Homo sapiens: one gene and its partners. The protein of the gene in region 5 purifies or fractionates together with the protein of the main gene of each other region. This does not show direct contact. Each region holds a gene or a part of one and is shown on either strand. Other genes may lie near its edges.

Evidence for each region.
Region 1: the proteins of DGCR2 (region 5) and HECW2 purify together in Homo sapiens (affinity purification with mass spectrometry; one large-scale study listed by BioGRID and IntAct). This does not show direct contact.
Region 2: the proteins of DGCR2 (region 5) and KIAA1586 purify together in Homo sapiens (affinity purification with mass spectrometry; one large-scale study listed by BioGRID and IntAct). This does not show direct contact.
Region 3: the proteins of DGCR2 (region 5) and RGPD2 purify together in Homo sapiens (affinity purification with mass spectrometry; one large-scale study listed by BioGRID and IntAct). This does not show direct contact.
Region 4: the proteins of DGCR2 (region 5) and DNAJC18 purify together in Homo sapiens (co-immunoprecipitation; 2 studies listed by BioGRID and IntAct, with this or other methods). This does not show direct contact.
Region 6: the proteins of DGCR2 (region 5) and TPCN1 purify together in Homo sapiens (affinity purification with mass spectrometry; one large-scale study listed by BioGRID and IntAct). This does not show direct contact.
Region 7: the proteins of DGCR2 (region 5) and NCAPD3 purify together in Homo sapiens (co-immunoprecipitation; 2 studies listed by BioGRID and IntAct, with this or other methods). This does not show direct contact.

The regions. Positions count from the first base shown.
Region 1 is NC_000002.12:196,196,064-196,198,554, forward strand, and holds part of HECW2 (E3 ubiquitin-protein ligase HECW2), read right to left. Parts: 3' UTR 1-2,491. UniProt on the Homo sapiens protein: E3 ubiquitin-protein ligase that mediates ubiquitination of TP73. Acts to stabilize TP73 and enhance activation of transcription by TP73. Involved in the regulation of mitotic metaphase/anaphase transition.
Region 2 is NC_000006.12:57,045,327-57,049,492, reverse strand, and holds the start of KIAA1586 (E3 SUMO-protein ligase KIAA1586), read right to left. Parts: upstream 2,801-4,166; 5' UTR 2,738-2,800; coding exon 2,717-2,737; exon of another isoform or gene 2,572-2,716; intron 2,181-2,571; coding exon 2,097-2,180; intron 1-2,096.
Region 3 is NC_000002.12:87,757,629-87,759,796, reverse strand, and holds part of RGPD2 (RANBP2-like and GRIP domain-containing protein 2), read left to right. Parts: intron 1-320; exon of another isoform or gene 321-2,168.
Region 4 is NC_000005.10:139,429,526-139,433,025, forward strand, and holds part of DNAJC18 (dnaJ homolog subfamily C member 18), read right to left. Parts: intron 1-3,500.
Region 5 is NC_000022.11:19,035,786-19,039,099, reverse strand, and holds the end of DGCR2 (integral membrane protein DGCR2/IDD isoform 1 precursor), read left to right. Parts: coding exon 1-235; 3' UTR 236-2,814; downstream 2,815-3,314. UniProt on the Homo sapiens protein: Putative adhesion receptor, that could be involved in cell-cell or cell-matrix interactions required for normal cell differentiation and migration.
Region 6 is NC_000012.12:113,276,964-113,280,463, reverse strand, and holds part of TPCN1 (two pore channel protein 1), read right to left. Parts: coding exon 3,429-3,500; intron 3,225-3,428; coding exon 3,100-3,224; intron 2,276-3,099; coding exon 2,227-2,275; intron 1,693-2,226; coding exon 1,629-1,692; intron 314-1,628; coding exon 269-313; intron 1-268. UniProt on the Homo sapiens protein: Intracellular channel initially characterized as a non-selective Ca(2+)-permeable channel activated by NAADP (nicotinic acid adenine dinucleotide phosphate), it is also a voltage-gated highly-selective Na(+) channel activated directly by PI(3,5)P2 (phosphatidylinositol 3,5-bisphosphate) that senses pH changes and confers electrical excitability to organelles.
Region 7 is NC_000011.10:134,203,468-134,206,967, forward strand, and holds part of NCAPD3 (condensin-2 complex subunit D3), read right to left. Parts: intron 3,266-3,500; coding exon 3,132-3,265; intron 1,505-3,131; coding exon 1,432-1,504; intron 705-1,431; coding exon 579-704; intron 440-578; coding exon 187-439; intron 1-186.

The DNA of each region.
Region 1 (2,491 bases), on a different chromosome or scaffold from region 5:
CCTGTCCTAACCATCCTTTCGCTCCTTCTGACCCAGATGGCTATGATATGGACAGCACACACACGGTCATCCTTCCTGACAGCTCCTCGGAATGCAGTTACCACTCTGAATCTTGACAGTTGGTCAATAATTAGCATTATATTCTTGCGGGGTGGCACAACTGCTGGGCTCCTCTTTCCTCCTTTTTTATTTTTATCATCCTTTCAGTGGGCAGTAGCTGGCCTTAAGCCACAATTCAGAAAGCTTTAATGTCTTCAGCATTCCTTTGCATCCATACTAGACAAACAAATTAATTTGGAAAACACAAATGAATGGGAAAGAAACTAAGTTTTTGAAAATTAGAGTCTAAAAGTGACATTCTCATCAAACTCACGGCAGTAAGATGGAAGTAAAATGGCTAAGGTCCAGAGTGCTGTCCCTCACCTACTAAATCAGAAAGCAGACAAAACAGAGCAAGGCCCAGAGGCTCACGTCTGTAATCCCAGCACTTCGGGAGGCCAAGGTGGGAGGACTGCTTGAGCTCAGGAGTTCAAGACCAGCCTGGGCAACGTGGCAAAACCCTGTGTCTACAAAAAATATAAAAAAATTAGCTGGGCATGGTGGTGCATGCCTGTAGTCCTAGCTACTCGGAGGCTGAGGTGGGAGGCTGGCTTGAGCCTGGAAGGCAGAGGTTGCAGTGAGCCAAGATCATGCCACTGCACTCCAGCATGGGTGACAGCCAGACCTTATCACAAATAAACAAAAACAACTGCCAGCATGGTGGCTCACACCTATAATTACTCCTAGCACTTTGGGAGGCCAAGGCGGGCGGATCGCTTGAGCTCAAGAGTTTGAGACGTGCCTGGGCCTTGTCTCTACAAAAATACAAAAATTAGCCAGGTGTGGTGGTATGCGCCTGTAGTCCCAGTTACTCAGGAGGCTGAGGTGGGAGGATCGCTTGAGCCTGGGAGGTGGAGGTTGCAGTGAGCTCATGTGCCACTGCACTCCAGCCTGGATGACAGAGCCAGACTGTCTCAAACAAACAAACAAAGAAAGCAAAAGGCCCTGAAACTGAGACTCAGTTTGGAGATTAGACCACATTCTTCTTATGCATGTTTTTATTATGCAGGGTTACAGATACCTCTTAATAATGGCATTGCATCATTTCACATAAATACGGAGTTTCCTGAATAAGGTTAAATTGAACAGACTCCTATCTTCATTATAAGATATTTGCCTTGTTAGAAGTGGTCCAATCATAAATAAAATTTGTGAATTTTATCACTGGAACTCAGCTATTAGGGCTTACTAGATCCATCCCTATTAAAAATTTAAAAATAAAATAAGGCTTCTGATTAATGTTTTCCATTATCTTGTTTCCAAATAATACTTGAGAAAATTAAATGACTATTCTGTATAAATCCATCAAAAGCAATCACATTTTGCCTTCTGTTTTTTAAATTTCTCATGTCAAGTCATGAAATGCAAATAAGTCTACGGGGAAATTTTTTCCATGAATATACTAATTTCTTTATGGACTTTTCAGAAGGTGTCATATTTTAAATGTATCTGTTTAAGAAAGTGAGAGTTTGGAGGAAGCATCTTGGAAACCTCACTGAATGTGGAATATACTGGTACAAACATTAGTCTCCACATTTCTCAAGATGAAACACAGAATTGTGACTATGAAGTAATGAAACTGATGCCACAAGCCATCCATGAAAATCAGCCACAACCCAGATGGAACATGATGCTTGTACCCTACAAAGTGCGTGAGGAGCTAAACGGACGATGTACCTGACAGCACTTTGAAACTATAAAGCACTATGCAAGCATATTCTACCATTTCTTTCAAACACTTGAATGCATTTTTACCATTTCTGATTGTTGCACAGGTAAAACAGATTTTCCTTTATTTATTGCAGAATTTCTGCTAAATTATAAACGCAATATATGCTAGAAAATTGTGACCATACTTCTTTGACCAAGATCCATTCATTTTGTGCACAAGAAAAATGTTTTGACCCCAGAAGTGGTTTGGGCTCAGGGATTGGGATTTTTCACACTGAAAACCAATGGTGCATTGTAGAATAGATGAAGGGAAACAGGGAAACTTTCCCTGTTTTGGCATTTCACTGATAATTTCAAAATCTTTGAGTTGCTCCTTCACAGATCAGCTCCCTACACACTTTACACTCTCGTTGTGTAAGTGCATCCTGGCTTCAACACTTGACCAGTATTGACATACTATTACTTGCCATTGCTTCCCAATAGAAACAGCATTGATGTAATTTTTTTTAGCCACACTATCATCTATATATGAAGCCATTATTGAATCTCCCAGATGGAAAAAGCTGTTCTCTTCTCTCTTCATTCCTTGATTGTAGAACTTACCAAATTTTATTAAAAACACTTTTTTGAACCTTGGAGTCTACTCTACTACACTGTGAGCTGAGCTTTTCAAAGGCAGATTTAGACTCTTGTAGCTCCATCGTCAAACAAACATCAAACT
Region 2 (4,166 bases), on a different chromosome or scaffold from region 5:
GATTCTGTGCCACAACGCAGAATGAAGGCTAGATAATCAACATTTATATGAAAAGACTAAGGAATCCAAACCAGAATATATCAAGAAGTAACAAACTTTTTTTTCTTTTAATCTGAAGAACCCACAAGCAGAGAACTATACCCAGCAGCATTGCATCTTTACTGGATGGTACTATAAAAAACACAGAGAAATAAGCATATCCTGGTAGAGCCCAGTATAGGATGGGGTTACAAAGGAAAGTTGTCTCTGAGTGTATTTCAAAGTGGAATTAAGTTATCATTGTCTTTTATGTGGCACCACTGAAATGCAACAGGGATGTTTTACTACATTCTTTCTGGTACTGCAATTACACTGACAGCATGTAATTCACTTCTCCATATAAGAGCTGTCAAACCTTTGATCTTCTATTTTGAACAGGGTTAAATATAAAGGGTTCTATCACGCTGGATATACAAAATATTGTATGAAAAGATGTAGAAGGATCTTTATATTTAAAATAAAATTTAAAGTAAGAGTTTTAAACCTCAGCTAAACACAGCCTATATATTAACTCACAATTTAAAATATAATGATTTATTCCTCAGGATATTACACAAATCTATACCTATTTACTTTTCCAAACTTAATTTTGTACATCCCATCTGTGTTTCTCAACGGCACATGGATCATGAATCAGACGTATGTCACTTCTACATACTTTCTCAATGGCACATGGATCATCAATCAGACGTGTGTCACTTCTACATACAGATGCACAAAAAACTCATCAAGATCATCTGTCCCAATCATTCCTGTTTTTATACCAGTTAAGAGGAAACCAAAATTATTTTTCCTAAAGACCCATGAACTCCTCTTCCCAAATGTTTCTCGTTACAAAAACAGAAACCATTGCTCTTTGATTTCAAGTTACGTTGCTTACTCCATAACAACAGTGAAGGCAGAGTCAGCATACAATCTCCCTTGGTATCATCAATATTTAGAAAGGTTCCAAATGTCAGGAACAAAATATACACACACTATTAATTGGGAAATATGTCCAGAAAGTGACAGGGTAAAGAACTTATACACAAAACACGAAAAACAAACAACGATGTTAACAAAACAATGTTTAGGGAGGAAATTTTAATTTAAAAAACAAGTGACTTACAAAGTCGCCCTAAACCTACAAAAACTAAAAAACACAGAAACATTAGACAGACACTCCATTAAAGAAAAATTCTACAGCCTGAATACCAAACTGCAACTAACTACGGCATTCCAAAAGACGAGTTGGGGACAGAACTGTTTTCTGCCTGGCGAGCTGAGATACCACTTTACGCAAAGCCTTTCTAAAACTCCAACAATTATGGATGAAAATCACCCCAAAATATATCATAAAACACTCCCTTCTGCTTTAGAAACCCATTCTGTCCAAAGTGTGCTCAGAAATCCTTATGTCCCTGCACTTGTCTGAAAATGAAGATTCCTAGGCCCCCGCCTGGAAATTCTGATTCGGTAGGTCTGCAGTGGGGCCCAGGAATCTGCCTGTTTATACTTACTAAGGCTTGAAAACTACTGTCTCAAAGGGAACAAACTCAGAAAAATAGAGCATGTTCCCAGTGATGTAGGATTCTTCATTATGAGCATCAACTGTACTATGCCGTAACATGATGATCTCAGAGGTTAGAGAAATCTTCAAGCTATTTGCCTTCATGTTAGAAGCACCATAACGCTAAGATTCTGGGCTCTCACAACCCTTCCTGTTTTCTACGTCCTTGCTCATCATTAGCAGCTCCTTCCTCCGTGTCGCCTTTAGAAGTTACTCTTGCTCCATTTCAAAACAGCGTTTTAGACACCAGCGTTTTTATCTTAAGTTTAAATGAAAGGCAGGGGGCGAGATTAAGTGTACAGCACGTTCTTTAGGACGTGCTCTTTGTGATGGCTACGGGGGTGGCTCAGATAGCTCTTTTGGTAAATTTCCCAATCCTGCGCCATGCTCCAGTGTCTAGTATGTATTAGACACTCATGAACATTAAATGACCAGGTGAGGTAACATTACATAATGGCCCACCATAGTCTTTTACTCTGGGAAAACCCCAATCATCATTGCTACTTACACTGACAAACTGAATGTCGTCTTCATTTTCATCCGTTGTTGACTCAGATGCCTCAGGGCCAGCTGGAGGGACAGATTCTATTATCTATAAAAACAAGCCAAAACATGCTTATCTGTTCAGCCACATTCGTGTAGGAAGAGAGCGTTTCCGAAAGGAACAATTAAAGACAGAGAGCTCTTGAGGAAAACGAACTGAGCACAATTTCACGGAAACCCGACTAGGAACGGAACTCGAGCTCTGGCTCTTGCCACAGAGTGTGCGGAGCTGCAGGGACCCAACGCTGAAAACGCGTTAGTTACCAGCCTCTCACAATTCCCCTTATCTACTCCAGGAGGAACGCAAGCTCAACACCGAAGGGCAATCCTGCCTTAAAACGTCGCTCCCACTGGCCCAGCCGCGGCCACAACGAACGCCAGGGCCCGTGCGGGGGGCCGGGCGGCCATTGTTGCTGCGGGTTCCTCGCTCAGACACGCACCAGGCCCCAGAGCTGGGCTCGGCCCAAGACACTGAAGAGGTATCGCCCCGAGGCTGCGACGGAGCACCAGGCCTCAGACCGCAGAAAACACAAACCCTTCGCGGTTCGCCTCTGAGAACGCCAGGACCCTCACTCGACTACTCACTTCCGACCCCGGGTCTCCCATGTCTCCGACGGCCGCGCTGACAGCACCACTGCTCCTGCTGTCCCTACTGCCGCAGCCGCCACCACTCCCCTTCCCGCCCTGCACCGCCTCGCGCTACCGGGACCCGCCCCTGCGTGAGCTGGGAGGCCACTGGCGGAAAGAGACGAAAACCGCTTCAAAAGAGGGGCAGCCCTCACTGGTCCGCTATCTCCCCGGAGCCTCTTTCTCTCATTCCCGGGCTTCCTTCCCCGCGCCGCAGAGGATGCTGGGATGGTAGTTCCTACCCGCCGCGCGACCGCGCCGCGCGACTGCCCCGCGCGTGGGTGAAGAATGGAAAAAGACTCTGAGCTACAGCGAAGTCGTCTCCCTTCGGTGTTGCTCTACTATAATAAAATAGCCGAGTTCTTTCTCTCACTTTTTCACAACCAAATATTCGTCTATGTAATAGATCAATGGGAATGAAAAAAAATTGTGTGTGATTTGCTCAGAAATTGCCTTACCAAAATCGTGGCTCACCTTTTTATTTTAACATTTATTCACAAATGATTTTAAACATGAAATTTATGAAAGCAAATTTTAACAGAGAATATTCTTTTAAAGCTTTTATTTGTTTACCTCTATCAGCCTAGGACCACCTGTTATTGACAAGTCTGTAGTCCCAGAAAATCACCTTTATCATTTTGACCCTGATCTACAATGCACAAAATTATACAACAAAGGAGCTATGAGGTATCTGATTAGCCAACTGATCTTCAGCAAAGCAAACAAAAACATAAAGTGGGGAAAGGACACCCTTTTCAACAAATGGTGCTGGGATAATTGGTGACCCACATGTAGAAGAATTAAACTGGATCCTCATCTCTCACCTTATACAAAAATCAACTCAAGATGCATCAAAGACTTAAATCTAAGACCCGAAGTCATAAAAATTGCTCAAGATAACACCGGAAAAATACCTTCTAGACATTGGCTTAGGCAAAGACTTCGCGATGAAGAACCCAAAAGCAAATGCAACAGAAACAAAGATAAATAGACTGAACTTAATTAAACTAAAAAGCTTCTGCACAGCAAAAAAAATAATCAGCAGAGTAAACAGACAACCCACAAAGTGGGAGAAAAGGAGAACATAGGAACAAAGGAAAACATAGACTTACTAGGATTTTAAGGAGTTGGTGAAATTTAAGTGAAGCAGTGTTTTGATAGGTTCAAAACCGTCTAGTGCTGTGTGTAAAGGGTTCAACATCACATACGGACTGCATAGCGAGCCCAGGGTCTTGTTAACTTCAAAACTACAAAGTTAACACACACAGAGTATTGTGCTCAGAAACCCCTTCCTCCGTGTAGCCATGCCCTAAGTGTGTGGATTTATTTCTGGGTACTGTATTCTGTTCCATTTGTCTGTGTGTCTGTTTTTATACCAGTACCATGCTGTTTTGGTTACTATAGCTCT
Region 3 (2,168 bases), on a different chromosome or scaffold from region 5:
ACAAATAAAGGATCCCGATGATTCAAACAGGTGGAAGTGATGGGAGAACTGAGTTGTCACACAGTACCATATCCACACTGTCACACAAATCTCACCTTTATTTATTCCCTTTTGCACTAACGTAGCCAGAAATGTGAAACGATGACAGTTTTTTCAGTAGGTATTTTTTTTTTTTAGTTTTTATCATTGACCTTTGAGGTGCACTATTAAATTGCTCAGTCCATTAAAATAACGGATTGCTGATTTAAAAACTGGTTCCTTGCTTAGCTTCAGCAAAACAGCAAAGTCTACCACATTAAATGTATATTGTTTATTTGATTTTTATTGACTTTGTTGTCTTATTTTAACTACTTAATTGCAAATCTGTCTTGGGGTTAACACTGTGTAAGAGTTTTAAGCATAAGAAGTCTGTACTTAGAGTTTAGATGTAGTTTTATATTTGTACATGTTGATGTAACATTTTAATAATAATAATTCAGGTCTGCTGGGCATGGTGGCTCATGCCTGTAATCCCAGCACTTTGGGAGGCTGAGGCGGGCGGCTCACCTGAGGTCGAGAGTTCAAGACCAGCCTGACCAACATGGAGAAACCCTGTCTCTACTAAAAATGTAAAATTAGCCAGGCATGGTGGCACATGCATGTAATTCCAGCTACTTGGGAGGCTGAGGTAGGAGAATCGCTTGAACCCGGAGGCGGAGGTTGTGGTGAGCTGAGATCGCACCATTGCACTCTAGCCTGGGCAATGAGAGCAAAATTCTGTCTCAGAAAAAAAAAAAAAAATCAGGTTAATTCTGGGATCTGAGCAAAGTTTTGCTCCTTTCCGAGAGGTGAACACGTTACGCAATTATTAATAATATCCCTGTGGGAAGGGGCTTTACAACAAATTATTTTACAGGTGAAGGGCAGAAATGAAAACATTTTCTAGAGCCACTCCTGCCCTTCACACTCAGGAATGTCGCAGTAGTCATATCTCTGTTCTGGATCAGTAGTATAGCACCAGGGCCCCTGCGCATCGTTGTCTGGATTCCTCCAGTCCCTCTGAGGGGTGTGTAGCAGGTGAGAATCTGGGGAGGATGGAAGAGAAGCACTTAGACTATATTCTAAAAATCAGCTTGCTATTAGCAAGGCAGAAGGAGATGCTCTCGATTCCCATCTGAGATTGTCATCCAAATGCATTTCAGCTGGGTGCTGCAGCATTTGTGTGGTCAGATTTTCAATTTCTCTATTGATAGGCTGCTTCTGGCACAGTAGCTAATATTACCATTGCTACTGTGACAGCCAAGTCTTAGACAGAGAGCCAAAATATTTTTATTGCACAGTCAGGAGAAATATAAAGGCCTCAAAAGCCTGCCATGGTCTTAATTCATTCCAAACACCTGCTTTTGTCAGTTGCCCTTTTCTCTGTAAAAATTTTCGTAGTTAACACCATTTTGTCCATGTGAACTATGTGCCAGGAATTCCACTAACATCTTTCCACACATTCTCTCTTTTAGTCCTAATAAAAAAAACCATTTGAGGAAGGTGTTATTATCCCTGTTTTACAGATGAGAAGACTGAGTGGCAACGTAAAACAAAACAAAACAAAACTTGCCTAAGCATAAATAGCTATGAAGAAGCAGATCAAGAATTCAAAGTTGATCTGTCTGATTCCAAAGTCCTGGTTTTCTCTGAAATGCAGCTTGAATTATTGGGGATGGAGGAGGGATTTAAACTTATTTTCAGTTCTAGAGATGAGTTGCTGTATAGAGACAACCATTTAGATGACAATCACAAGACTTACAGTCTAGAAAGGCAGGTTTTATTTCTGGTTCTTCTGTGAACCTATTTGGGTAACCCCCACCCCCCAAGACCTCAGTTCCCTCATGAAGATGAGCCTAGACTACCTCATAAAAATGGCCCAGAGTGTCTCCATGGCCCCCGATAGTCTCTGACTTCGCCATTTGGTTGAATCAGTTTTCATTAACTCACGGGGAATATTTGATCTGCTCATCTCATAGGGATATAGCAAAGGCAATTTGTTGAGTGTTGGGGGAATGGATAAAGGTGAGTAACACTAAGTTCCTATTTGATAAGTGTCATTACTGAGAACTTAAGGCCACCTAACACCAAACTGGGAAAAGCACAAAAAAATGCACTAAAATAAATAATAGGCAAGTTGTGACATTTGA
Region 4 (3,500 bases), on a different chromosome or scaffold from region 5:
TCTGTGGATCCTATGTACAGAGAGTACAGGTATAGTCCTCTCCATTTTTTTTCTTGCCTAAATGGAAACATATTATAATCACTTTTCTACATCTTGCTTTAAAAAAAAATTATTTTGGGCTGGGCGTGGTGGCTCACTCTTGTAATACCAGTGCTTTGGGAGGCTGAGGCAGGAGGACTGCTTGAGGTGAAGAGCTTGAGGCCAGCCTGGGCAGGATGGTAAGACCCTATCTCTATGAAAAATTTTAAAAAGTTAGCCAGGCATGGTGCCTTGCATCTGGAATTCCAGCTACTCAGGAGGCCAAGGCAGGTGGATCACTTAAGCCCAGGAGTTTGAGGCTGCAGTGAGTTATGATTGTTCCACTACACTCTAGCCTGGGCAACAGAGCATGATCCTGTCTCTAAAAAACAAACAAAAAACAATTTATCTTGGAGATCAATCCTTAACATATAGAGATGAGAAGTATAGAATAATAGTTTAGACTAGACAGTAGTTTAGATTAGAGTGGCAGTTCTGAACTTTTGATCTCAGCAACGTTTTATACTCTTAAAAATTACTGATATGCATGGTACAGGAAGCGAAAAAAAATTACTGAAGACCTCAAAAGAGCTTTCATTTATATGACTTCTATCAATCCACATCTACTATACCAGAAATGAAAACAAAAAATTTTTAAACAGTGATGATGTAATTACATGTCATGTAGCCTCTCAAAAACTCCACTGTATAATCATGAGAAAATTAGTGAAAAAGACAAGTAACATGTTTATATCATTATGACTACAGTTTTAAACTTGCAGACCTATCCCCTAAAAGGGTCTTGGGGTTCCCCAACCACCCTTTGAGAACTGCTGGATTAGAGATGAGCTCTGGAGTCAAAATGCCTTGGTTTAGCTTTGATTTTGCTGTGTACTTAACCTCTATAGCTTGGTGTTATCTTCTGAAATGGGCTAATAATTATATTTCACAGAGTTGATATTGTGATTAAATAAAGTCTTCATCAAAGTGCTTGAGAGCATTTAATACTAAATAAATATTACCTAGTACTATATATCTACCTCTTTTTTTTTTTTTTGAGACAGAGCCCAGGCTGGAGTGCAGTGGCGCGATCCTGGCTCACTGCAACCTCTGCCTTCTGGGTTCAAGTGATTCTCCTGCCTCAGCCTCCCGAGTAGCTGTGACTACAGGCTTGCATCACCACACCCAGCTAGTTTTTTGTATTTTTAGTAGAGACAGGGTTTCACTGTATTGGCCAGGCTGGTCTCGAACTCTTGACCTCAAGTGATCCACCTGCCTTGGCCTCCTAAAGTGCTGGGATTACAGGCATGAGCCACCACGCCTGGCCTACCTCATTCTTTTTAAAATCTAAATATTATTGCATTGTATCAATGTATAATATATACATTACCTACTAATTTGTATTGAGAAGGTCTTCAGTCTTTTGCTACTATATAATTCAGTAAGGCAGGCAGAGATTCGGAGCTTCGTTGGGAAATTCATCGTAAGTCAGTAACACAGGTTGGACTCTAATGCAGGGTCTGGGCTGTCAGCAGATCCCTTCCACATGAGCTGCCCATGGGGAGTCTTTGAATCCCCAGCCCAGTTTCCAATCTCTGCTTCCATGGCAGACACTCAGGACTCCCTCTCCTAAATTTACTATTTGTTTAATAATGCTTTATTGAGAAATAATCCACGTACCATAAAGTTCACCCTTTTAAAATGTACAATTCATTAGTTTTTAAATACATTTTTAGAGGTGTGCATCTATCACCACTATCTCATTTCAGGACATTTTTATCACCCCAAAAAGAAACTCTATACTCCTTAGTAGTCACTCCCACTTCTCCCCCAGCCCCTGGGACCCACTAATCTACTTTCCCCTCTATAGATTTGCTTATTCTGAATATTTTACATAAAAGGAGTTATATAACATGTAGCTTTTTGTATCTGGCTTCTTTCACTTACTGTAATTTTTTCAAGGTTCATCCATGTTGTAGCATGAATCTGTTCATCCCTTTTTGTTACAAAATAGTATTTCATTGTATGGATATACACCATGTTGCTTGTCCATTATCAGTTAATGGACATTGGGTTGTTTCCCCTTTGGGGTCGTTATGAATAATATTGCTATGGACATTCATGTACAAGTTTTTTTGTGGAAGTATATTTATATTTCTCTTGGAATATACTAGGAGTAGATTGCTAGGTCAATAATCTTAATTTTCTTCTGAACCTTAAGAGGAATTGCCATATTGTTTTCCAAACTGGCTGCATTCCTACCAGCAATGTACAAAGGTTCCAATTTATCTGCTTCTTTATAAACACTTATCATCCACCTTTTTGACTATAGACATTCCAGTGGGTATATCTCATTGTGGTTTTGATTTGCATTTCCCTAATGACTAAAGATGTTGAACAAGTTTACATATGCTTACTAACCATATATATATCTTCTTTATTCATATATGGAGGAATATATAGGAGGAATGCCTATTCAGACCCTTTGCCCATTTTTCCAATTGGGTTATTTGTCTTCTTATTGTTGAGTTTTAAGAGAACTTTGTACGTTCCAGATAAAGTCCCTTATCAGATATACAGTTTTTAAATGTTTTCTCCCATTCTGTGGGTTGACTTTTCACATTCTTTTTTTTTTTTTGAGATAGAGTTTCACTCTTGTCATCTAGGCTGGAGTGCGATGGCATGTTTTCGACTCACTGCAACCTCCTCCTCCCAGGTTCAAGCAATTCTCCTGCCTCAGACTCCCGAGTAGCTGGGATTATAGGCACCTGCCACCACACCCAGCTAATTTTTGTATTTTTAGTAGAGACGGGGTTTCACCATGTTGGCCAGGATGGTCTTGAACTCCTGACCTTGTGATCCACCTGCCTTGGCCTCCCAAAGTGCTGGGATTACAGGCGTGAGCCACCGCGCCTGGCCACAGAACTTTATTTTTTTTTAGAGACAGGGTAGGGTCCCTGTCACCCAGGCTGGAGTGCAGTGGCACGATCATAGCTCACTGCAGCCTCCAACTCCTGGGCTCAAGTAATTCTCCTGCCTCAGCCTCCCAAGTAGCTGAGACTACAGGCATGCACCATAACCCTGAGTTAATCCAAAAGAACTTTTTAAAGGCAGTCCCTTAATGGCAAAGTACTTCCTGACTTCACGAAGAAAATATCAATGGAGCCAGTCCAGAAAAAGGGCTCTCAGTGCCCAGGCCTTCTTGCTGTACAACCAAAAGGCTGGCAGCTGGTGTTCATCTTTTCCATTCAAGGCTCAGGGGTTAGCAACTTTATATATAATGGCAGCCCCCATCATAAACTGAACTGCATTTGCACAAAATAGCAGAGTTAGCCTATCCCTTCCTGCCTTATATCCTGATGCTCACTTCTCATCCTTACTAGTACAATGTCCTTTGTGACATTTCTTTTCCAGAATAGGGCACTTTTGTCTGCACTAAAAAGTTGATGAGGTAGGGCTGGCCGCAGGGTTCACACCTGTAA
Region 5 (3,314 bases):
GGAGGTCAGCCTGCCAGCCCCTGGGGATGGTGGGAGTGAAGGTGCATTACTCCGGCGCCTGGAGCAGCCTCTGCCCACTGCGGGGGCCTCTCTGGCAGACCTGGAAGACTCTGCCGACAGCAGCAGCGCCCTGCTCGTGCCCCCTGACCCTGCCCAGAGCGGGAGCACCCCAGCTGCAGAGGCACTGCCAGGGGGTGGCCGCCACAGCCGCAGCTCCCTCAATACTGTGGTGTAGACGGCCTGGCCTGTACCCCAACGGTCTGGGAGCACCTGTCTGTTGTAGAAAACACCGGTCCCTGGGGAGACTTGAAAGGCCCCTGTCCCAGCCTGGACGCCACGCACTGCCGCACGTCACTGGCGGGCTCGCGTGTGTACATAGAGACCACAGCCCGCCTTCTGCCAAAAGAAGTGATGGCCTGCACCGAGCTTCCTTGAGGGCTTCAGAAACATGCATAGCTTTGGATCACTGTCTTCTCCTTTATAAATGGCAGAAGAGTGACAAAATTCATTCAGACCGCACATGTTAGAGGCAGGGAATGAAGAAGGTACTGTGGGCCATGGCCACACCTGATGCGTTTTTGGTGGGCTTACTTGGTGCAGTGTGCTGTCCAGAGAGACCTGCTGACCCAGTCTGGGACAGGCACAGTGGGAGCTGCCACAGTGCCCCTTGCTGGCCGCCCTCAGGAGGGGGCCTCTGGACCGTCAGTGTGGCGTAGGCAGTGGGTCTGCTTCAGGGAGGCAGCCTCTTGACTTTGTCACAACGGTTGCACTGAAGATGGCCCCCACAAGCCCAGTTGTGAATATCAAGGTGACCCTGCCCCTGGCTGGGAGCTCCCCTGGGGCTCTGGAACCTGAAGCCCTGAGAAGGAGAGCTTGGAAGGAGGTTGAGCTCTTCACTGTGTCTTTCCATCTGGGCTCTGCAGCCCAGCTCTGTGGCAGGAGGCCTGACCCCACCCCATCAGTCCCTCTCCCAGCATTGCTGTGCATGGCTCCCTCAGGAAGAAGCTCTGGAGTGGGGCCGAGGCCCCAGATGCTCTGCTGGGGTCTGGGGACTGAGCTGCCTCCTGTCTCTCCACTCTGGAGCCCTGGGCTCTTGCCTCCTGTTGAATTGCCCCTGGGCCTGCCCCCGGCCCCATTTGTGCCATAAAGGGTTGCTTCATTGCAGGAGGGGTGGCTGAAACCACCATCCTGGGCTGCATCTATCTCCTTAAAGTCCACTCCTTACATCACCGCCACTACTGCAGCTCAGTGCCCAGCGGCCGCATGCACACCTCCCGGCCCCTCCTCAGCAGCGCAGGGGCTGGGGGCCCTTCCTGGCACCCTTTTGCCTGACGGACCCTGTTGCCTGCTCCTGGGCAGTGGTTTTGTTGCCTGACACAGGGCCTTTAACATTTCTGAGGTTTGGAGATTAAGCGGGTTCTGTGCGATTTTTAGCACATCCATATCTTTTCTACGTTGAATGTCTGGATCTTTCCTTTGTATGTTTGTGTCTCTGTGTGTGTATGTGGCCAAGCGTCTGCAGGTGAGGGTGGCACATGGAACTTCACGGGTCACTGGGGGCCCACTCTTCCAGGGTCATCGATGCATCCTGGGCTGTGCTGAGGCAGTGCTGTCTCGCTCAGTCTTTCCAGACCAGCGGGGCAGCACCTGGGAGGCCTGTCTGAAGCATGCAGTTCTGTGGTGCTGCTCGGGGATGGACTCCATGCACAGTCCACTTCTTGACACATTCTCACACTGTGGCTGGAGACCCATTTTTTCCATCCCATGTGGAATGAGAATCTTGAGTTGCCCACAGACAGACTTGACCTTTGTGCCAGAACTGTCCAGAGCTGTGAGTTTTGTTACTGAATTGCCTGTCCCTGAGCTTGGCCTGCTGGAGCATGATGCTGGAGGCTGTGTGCGGGCAGGCTTGTGCTCCCCTTGGAGAAGGGCTGCTACTTAACAAGGAAGTCCTGGCCACAGGAGTCCCCTACTGGCTGCAGAGGACGAAGCAGGAAGCATGCCGTGGATCCCACATGCACTGGGGCAGGGCAGCCAGGTTCCAGAGCAGCAGGCATGTGCATTATGGGTGCCAGGTGGCCAGTGAGGGCCCGAGGACCACGCAGCAGAGTCCCCCACGGGCCTGAGCCTGAGAGCTCAGAGGATTCCTGCCAGGCCTCAGAACTGTGTGTGCGGGACAGGGTGGCTGGCACGAGATGTGTGGGACTGGGACGCTTCCTTTGGGGACCAGAGGAACATTAGGGGCCGGTCAGACACGTAGGGGGCAGTGAGGAAACGGGGTAAAGTGGACCATGCAGGCTGCAGAGGGTGGGCCTTGGGCTGGCCGGGGTTGCTGGGTGGCCCCTTCCCCATGGGCCTCCACAAGCACTCAGGCCACTGGCACGTTGGGCCAGGCAGAAGGTCCACATGGCAGGGCTGCCTGGAACACCGCTGCCACTGTGGCTCCAGGAGGCCCTTGGGAGCATGAGGAGAGCTGGACTCGCTCATCTGTTCTTGCACCACCATCCAGAATGCCCCCTTTGCAAGGCCTGCTGCAGTCCCCAGTCTGACCAGCAAGTCCCGGGGTCACCCTTGCTGAACCTTGTGCTCCAGGGGTCCTCCTCCTCTAGGACCAGCTTGCCACGGTTTCTCAGAGCCCAGGTGCCCTCTGACCTGCCATGCGGAGGTGGGATTTGATACTGTACATTGTCTTGATGCCTGTTTTTTTATGTTTTCATTAAGGGTTTTTAGTTTTTGGTTGGGTTGACACTAACTTTTCTTAAGATGCTGTGAGAATCATTTCATCCAAATGCCAAATAAACTTGTGTTCCGGAAGAGGCATGGTTAGTCCTTGGTGTGGCCCCCACGGCTGCCACAGGCTAAGGTGGAAGAGGCTGGGTACCCACCTTTCAGCAGAATGCACCTAGGGTTTGCAGCCCTTGCAGGCGTCCATCAAACCCCCTGAGGACCAGGCAGAGCTGAGCCTGGAGCCCCTAGGTGGAGTGTGCAGGGAGAGCAGCAGCCCTGAGCTGCCTACAGCTATCCTGCAGCACCCAGCCCTGCTTGGGGCATCGGCTGCTGCCTTGGCAGGTGTTGCTGACGTGCACAGGATCCACATAAAGGCAAGGCTGCTTGACACCATCTGGGAGCTAGCATGGGACGGGGTGGTAGGGCAGGGCTTGGAACCTGGCCGTCAGCGCCATTTCCTCTAAGCTCCCCTCATCATCCGGGTGGCTGGAAACAGCCCCTCCCTCCAGTCCAAGCCACCTAATGTTACAAAGTAGCCTAGGTCCTCTGGGGCCTCTTCACTCATGTCCAGCAGTGCCATCTCTAGG
Region 6 (3,500 bases), on a different chromosome or scaffold from region 5:
ATATCGACCAGTCAACTCTGTGGTTCTGGAATTTGCTTCCAAAAAATCTAGGTCTAGAGAGGATGATGAGCCGGAGTGAAGATACAGATGGGTGATGGGCACGGGGATGCGTGTGGTAATGTTCTCTTCACTTTTATACATGCTGGGAATTCCCCACAATAAAAAGTCAAACACAGGACTCTAGGACCAATCTCTTGCCTCTCCCGCTTCTAGAACAGCAAAGGACTCAGGGGGAAAGTGGCCTAGAGTGGAGATATTTCACACTTACACATGAAATACTGGAAGGCCTTGGACTTCACAAGGATATTAATACCTATTTGAAGAAAAGACAAGTTAAAATGTAAATTTACGCACTTGTTCCCCCTACTGTATCCTTAATTATTATTATCTCTTTCTGGGCAGGTGCAACCACCTACCACACTCTTCGTGCATGCAGGTAAGCATGGTCTTTACCCCAGAGGTGAAGAAAGGAGGGTCCTGCTCAAAGAGTGGTACCCATGCTTCTGCTCAGACCCCCAGACAAGACTGCACTGACTACAGCTGCTCTGGGGGGAGCCTGAGCAACCTGGAACCAAGATAGAGCAGGACAAAGCTCTCCTGATCACTGCTGAAACTGGCATGAAATTAAGGGGCAACTGTCAGGTAAATAATACGAGCACCCAATTTCAAATTTTCAAACTTTACACTACACAAGCATTATTCAAGGGGTCATGCAAAGTATACATCCTGCCATAAGAGGAGGGCAAAAATATATTATCGGGGTCGGGCGCAGTGGCTCACGCCTGTAATCCCAGGCCTTTGGGAGGCCGAGGTGGGTGGATCACGAGGTCAGGAGTTCAAGATCAGCCTGGCCAGCATGGTGAAACTCCATCTCTACTAAAAACACACACACACAAAATTAGCCGGGCATGGTGGCACATGCCTGTAGTCCCAGCTACTCGGGAGGCTGAGGCAGGAGAATCGCTTGAATCTGGGAGGCGGAGGTTGCAGTGAGCGAGATCGCACCACGGCACTCCAGCCTGGGCAACAGAGCGAGACGCCGCCTCAAAAAAAAAAAAAAAAAAAAAAAAAATATATATATATATATATATATATATATATATACACACACACACACATATATATACACACACACACACACACACATATATATATACACACACACACATATGTGTTATTGGATGAAAAGGCAGATTACAGAATGGAATATATAATGTCACCCTACTGTTTTAAAAATGCATAGAAAAATGGCACAGAGGGAAACACATCAGAGAACTAACAGTGGTTATCTGGGTGGTAAATTTCCATTTACTTCTAATTATCTCACTTTCAAGTTTCTTCAATGAACATCTTTGCTTTTGTATGAAAAAAGAAAAATACCCCAAATGTCTTGGTTGGGTTAAGTTACCCATTTTGGTTGGGTTAAGTTACCCATTTCTCTCCCAATCTGCTTCCTACCACCCTTACGTCCCTGCTGGGGTAATCACACTGTCTCTTCACACAGGCATTCAGACAAACACACACACACACACACCCCTCTGAACCTCTCCTCAGACGCTTATCTGTGGTCTCTGAAAACCTCCATCGGCCCCCAGCTGCCAACACCTGCCATACTCAAGCCCACTTACCTTTGAAGATGAGGAGCGCCGTCCTGGGAAGCTCATCAAACCAGTGCTCTCTGTTTTTCTTGGCCTGGTAGACAACAGGACCAAGAGGGAGGGTGTCAGGGCCAGGGACCAGGGCCCTGCCTGGAGCCAGGATGCTGGCTTCCTTTCCTGTTCACCCTGCTAAACTGGGGAACAATGTTAACCTTCAGGGATCTACATGACAACACAGCCAGCCAGTGTGTACCGAGCGTTTACAATGTGCCATGCAGAGGCCTTATTTTAGTATAGTCCTGAAATGAGGTTTGTCAGTAGGGATTATCCTTACGCCACTTCCCAGGTAAGACAAGCCTCAGAAAGGCTCAGTAACCCGCCTGATGTCACACAATAACCAATGGGGTCTAAGTAAGATTCGGTGCTGTTAACGATGACACTGTATCACAAATGTAAGGGCAGATTTGGGGGCTGGGGCCACCTGTGATCCCTGAAGTGTACCATGCCAAGCTGGGGGCTGAGCTGCTCTAGCAGGGAGAGAGCTGGATCTCGGGGTGCCCCTGCTCCTCACTGCCCCACGTGGGGACCTCTCTGTCTACTCCTTCTATGGTCTCAGAGAAGAACTCACCTTCCACTTCAAAGCAGCAACTTCGTAGATATCGTAAAAGTCCTTTAGGCTACCAAAAGCAAAATAAAAAGGGACAAAATATCAGAACATAGTTCCACTGTGCTTTGCTTCTCTTACTTGCCTGCCTATGGACACCTTTATGGGGTGAGGGAGGAAGAGAGGGGACACCATGTGAGTCCCAGCACAGCAGTGCTGGGGGATCCTTTACCTGCAAGCGTTTGGATCTCCTCTGACCTTGAGGTACTACAAATATGTAATCCACTTAAGTCTCCACCGATGGCACTAACTACGGACAGTGTCAGTGCCCTGGAGAGGCAGCTGCTGGAGCACTAGGATTCTTAGGAGGACGGAAACTTCACTTTTTAGCAGGGGCCTTAATGCAACACCTGGGACTGCAAGTTCAGCTCAAACAGGGCTTGTTCTCAGCTCCACAGCAGGCTGCTGTGGACAGGGCTTGGTCATCAACAGCCTGGAAGACCAATCCTACCCCTGGAGATCTCGGGTCAGTTCTCTGCGGCCGAGCCAGGTGTGTGCAGGGGATTGGGGAAGTATATTCACCCCTGTCTGTCCACCTGGCTCACATGGGACTATCCCACCCCACTGGGGGTTCGAGGGCCAGCAGCTGGGCCAGTCCACTTCATGAGCTCCTTTTTTCTCAAGTCAGCTTGAATTGGATTTGTGTTGGACTTTTGTCACTTGCAAAAGGCATCCTGATGAATCCAGTGTGTAAGTCTACATGGATAAACATCTGTGGAGGAAGTCTCTGACAAGCCTATAGGCCTGCCCACCTCAAGGGCCTTCACATGCCCCCGTTCACTCTAGACGTGAACACCTTGTCTGGCCATGCTGCCCCTACCAGGCATCTGCTCTTACCTGAGCAGGGGTGTGTTGTTCTGATTCAGGGCCTTGAAGGTAAGATAGCGCTCCCTGGCACTCATCCGGGGCTTGTAGAAGCGCATGAGGCCTTCAAACTGCCTGTAGGAGATGCCGGCAGGCCTCTGGGGGAGAGGGAAGAGCAGTGTGGAACCCAGGCTACTCCCCTTCCCTTGGGGCACCCACTCCAGATCCACTCCAGCTCTGTTCATTCTTCCAAGGGCAGGGTTCCTGGTTTCTAAAGTGGCTGGCCTGGCCATGCTTAGGGGCTGCTCTGGGCAAGGGAGGGAGGACAGGGACCAAGCCCCTCCCTGGCCCATAGTTCCTACCCTCTGGCTGATGAGCAGGCGGTAGGCATGCTGGATAGCGGTTCGCTTGTGCAGTAGCAAAGACTTGAACTT
Region 7 (3,500 bases), on a different chromosome or scaffold from region 5:
GCAAATGTATCAGGCTTGCCTATTTAAAAAGTTATTTGGCAAGAAAATATACTAAAAATGGTTTTGAGAGTAAAAATAGATCATGCCATACCTATTACTTTTGCCACAGAAAAGAACGATTCCCTTGCAGTCTATTTCTCAATGAGCACAAGACCGGTTTACTGTCCCAATAGTCGCCATACTCACTGTTAATCAGGAGCTCCAGGATACTCTCCGACGCACTGGTAACAGTCAACTCCAGACAGTGTGCAAAGCTGGACAGTGCCTTGCTGCGGACAGTAGGCGCCTTGTCTAAGCAACGATCAAACATAATTTCCTGCACCAGGAACTTATGCTTTAAGAACTTCTGATGCTCCAAGGAGAGGGTGTTATCCACCTCTCTTTCAGGCAGTTCTAACAGAGCTAAGACAACATCAAGAGTAAAAACCCGGTGTGGGATCTGGTAAAGCAAGATCATAAGAATTGCCATCAGATAGGAGTAAGAACCAAAGAACCCTCCTCATTCAGACCTAGAAAAAGAGACCCTTTTAAAAAGAGTTTAAAAAGGACCCAAGGTTTTATGCAGAGCTATCTCCTACCTTGGAACTTCGGGAGTATTTGTAAAGCCAGGCAATGAACATAGCGTATTCCCCACAAGGAAGTTTACTGAGCAGCTGGACTAGGGACTGGGCTGCAAAAGTACGATACTCTGATTTATCTACCACCTGAAAAGCAAAAAGAGAAGTTGACCAACCAATATCCACCCGCAGGATGGCTGAAACATATTCTGTAATATAAGTTGAAAGTCAGTGAGTACAACTAGTTCAATGACCTTTAAATGTTACGTAAATGACTAATAAATTTTAGGTTTTAGAACACTTCAAAACTAATCTAAAGGAAATCTATAAACCATCTCTCCAGAAAAATGCACATACAAATTTAGTATACAATTTCAGAGAGTTTTTAGATCCCCAGGTTTCATAAGGTTCAAATTAAGAATCATTTGTCTAAATGGTTATAAAAATGTAGAGATCATCATGGAAATTTGAACACTGGATGTTTGATAATATTAAGGAATTACCGTGAAAGGATATGATGGAATTTGCTTCAAAACACAATCCAGTATACACATGTTGGGGGATGTGGGGTAGGGGTTTAAGTGACACAAAACTGTGGAACTCGGTGATGGGTATGTGGTGGTTCACCAGCCTATTTTCCCTGTTTCTGTGTGTATGTTCAACATTTTTCCAAAACAAAGTTTTTTTGTTTTTTTGTTTTTTATAGAACACTTTTGTCTAGGGGACCATCTAGTGAACATTAAATAAAACCACTTTAAGTAACAATGCACACTCATTCCCAAGAACAAATACCCACACTCACACACACACACACACATTTATCTTCACACACGATATACTTCCATGTTATTAATATTACTAAGGCAAACAGTACCTTGGCACAGATGTGCTGCAGTAAGATACGGACGACTGGGAATATACTCTCCTTTAATTCATCCACAAGGGCGCTTTGTAAAAGAAAAACACATCTACTGTTCACAATACAGTCAGCGACTGTCCCCAAAAACCACTACTCCTATATTTAGAAATCCTAGTTATTAAAACACTCTACCTCACGCTATAAGAGTGGTTTCAGTAGAATGAAGAGTGAAGACATAAAATGTCATCGTAGAAAACTGTGAAGTAGTTCCCGTGCAGTTTTGAGAGCTGCTGCAGAGTAGCTAAGTCATCAGGTAAGAACAAAAATGTAATCTTCATACAATTCTTTTGACTACTTACTAAATTTCATATGAAGATGTAAAATATATCCTTTGGGGATAAATATAAAAATTGACTAAGACACAGTACCACCTCATGGTAGCTCAGTGAAATGCATTAGTAACATTACTTCTCCAAACTTTAACCCAATAAGAAATTTCTTTTTTTTTTTTTTGTAGATGGAGTTTTGCTCTTGTCGCTCAGGCTGGAGCGCAATGGTGTGATCTCGGCTCACTGCAACTTCCCCCACCGGGTTCAAGAGTTTCTCCTGCCTCAGCCTCCCGAGTAGCTGGGATTACAGGTGCCCGCCACCACGCCTAGTTTCTGTATTTTTTAGTAGAGACAGGGTTTCACCATGTTGGCCAGGCTCGTCTTCAACTCCTGACCTCAGGTGATCCGCCCGCCTCGGCCTCCCAAAGTGCTGGGATTACAGGCATGTGCCACCGCGCCCCGCCTCAAGAAGAAATTTCTACAATGCCCAGACTTGATCCATTTTTAGTGATGTTTATCTGTAACATTACATGAAGACTATTGCGACTGGCATATGAGAAACTCTCATGGAAAAAACGAAACGATCGTGTTTTCACTTAAAACATTTTAGTTACTTAATGTTTTAAAAAGTCCTTAGTGAGAGACATTTGCTCAGTCACAAGATGACGTCATACACACCCCATGTCTCCAACTACCCTGCACACTGTGCACACCCAAGGCATGCACACACTTGCACATGCACACCATGTCTCGGCACCACCTCCACACTGCACGCCAAAAATCAGTGAAGGAGGGAAGGAAAAGCCAACAACGCAGCAAACATGTCCTTGCCAGTGAAACTAAGGCATGAGAGTTTTTAAGTGAAGCTGAGTGACCCATGAGAGGAAAAGTAGTCTAACACTTATTGCTACGGAGGTAAAAAGCAACTCAATCCTTTCCTTCAAGTCATTTCTACAGAGGGAAAGGAATAGAAAAGTGCAAAGAAACAAGAAGAAAGTGGCAAAGAACAAAAGCAAAGAGCTGCAAAGTAGAGAGCAACAGAAAAGGGAAAGAGGTGAACTGGCTGCAATGAAGCAGACAAGGGAAAGGAGGAGAGGCCACCATCCTCTCTCTGAGGCTGACCCACATATTGAGCGCAAACAAGCTGGAGGCTGGCGCTGGCCCGTGTTCTGCAGATTCCTATCTCTTTAACAGTGCCCCAGCTGGGAGCCTACCAACAGAGACCCAGACACATAAAGCACATTAGCTACGAAGTGCTTGGTTTTCACCCCCAAAACCACCATCAGGCCAGAAATTTTAAGTCTACATGTATCAGAAATCTTAGTGCAGGGCCCAGAGTACTGAGGGAGACTGACAGGGTGAAAATTCACGATTTGTGTGCTTCACCTGATAAACTGGACCGCCTGGTTTCTACAGTTGATGACTTGGGAGGTAACAGCAAGGGGGGCACGATGGGATCCTTCACCAACTTCTAACATTAATATTACACTGAGCATTTGATGGAAAACACAACTGATGACCTAGAAGAGAAAAGAAAATTCAATTTAAGATCGGATGGAGAACACAAGGGTCTCAGACATAGTGATGCAGACTGTAGTAAACCATTTCAAGCCATCTGAAGGTAGGTCAGGCTGGCATAATTGCTGGCTGAACACTAGGGATATATTTCTTAAACAATGAGCAGGGATACAATAAATGCACAATGTAAACAGTGTGAAAGAATGGCTGACAGATGATATGTCTGATAAAAACAAT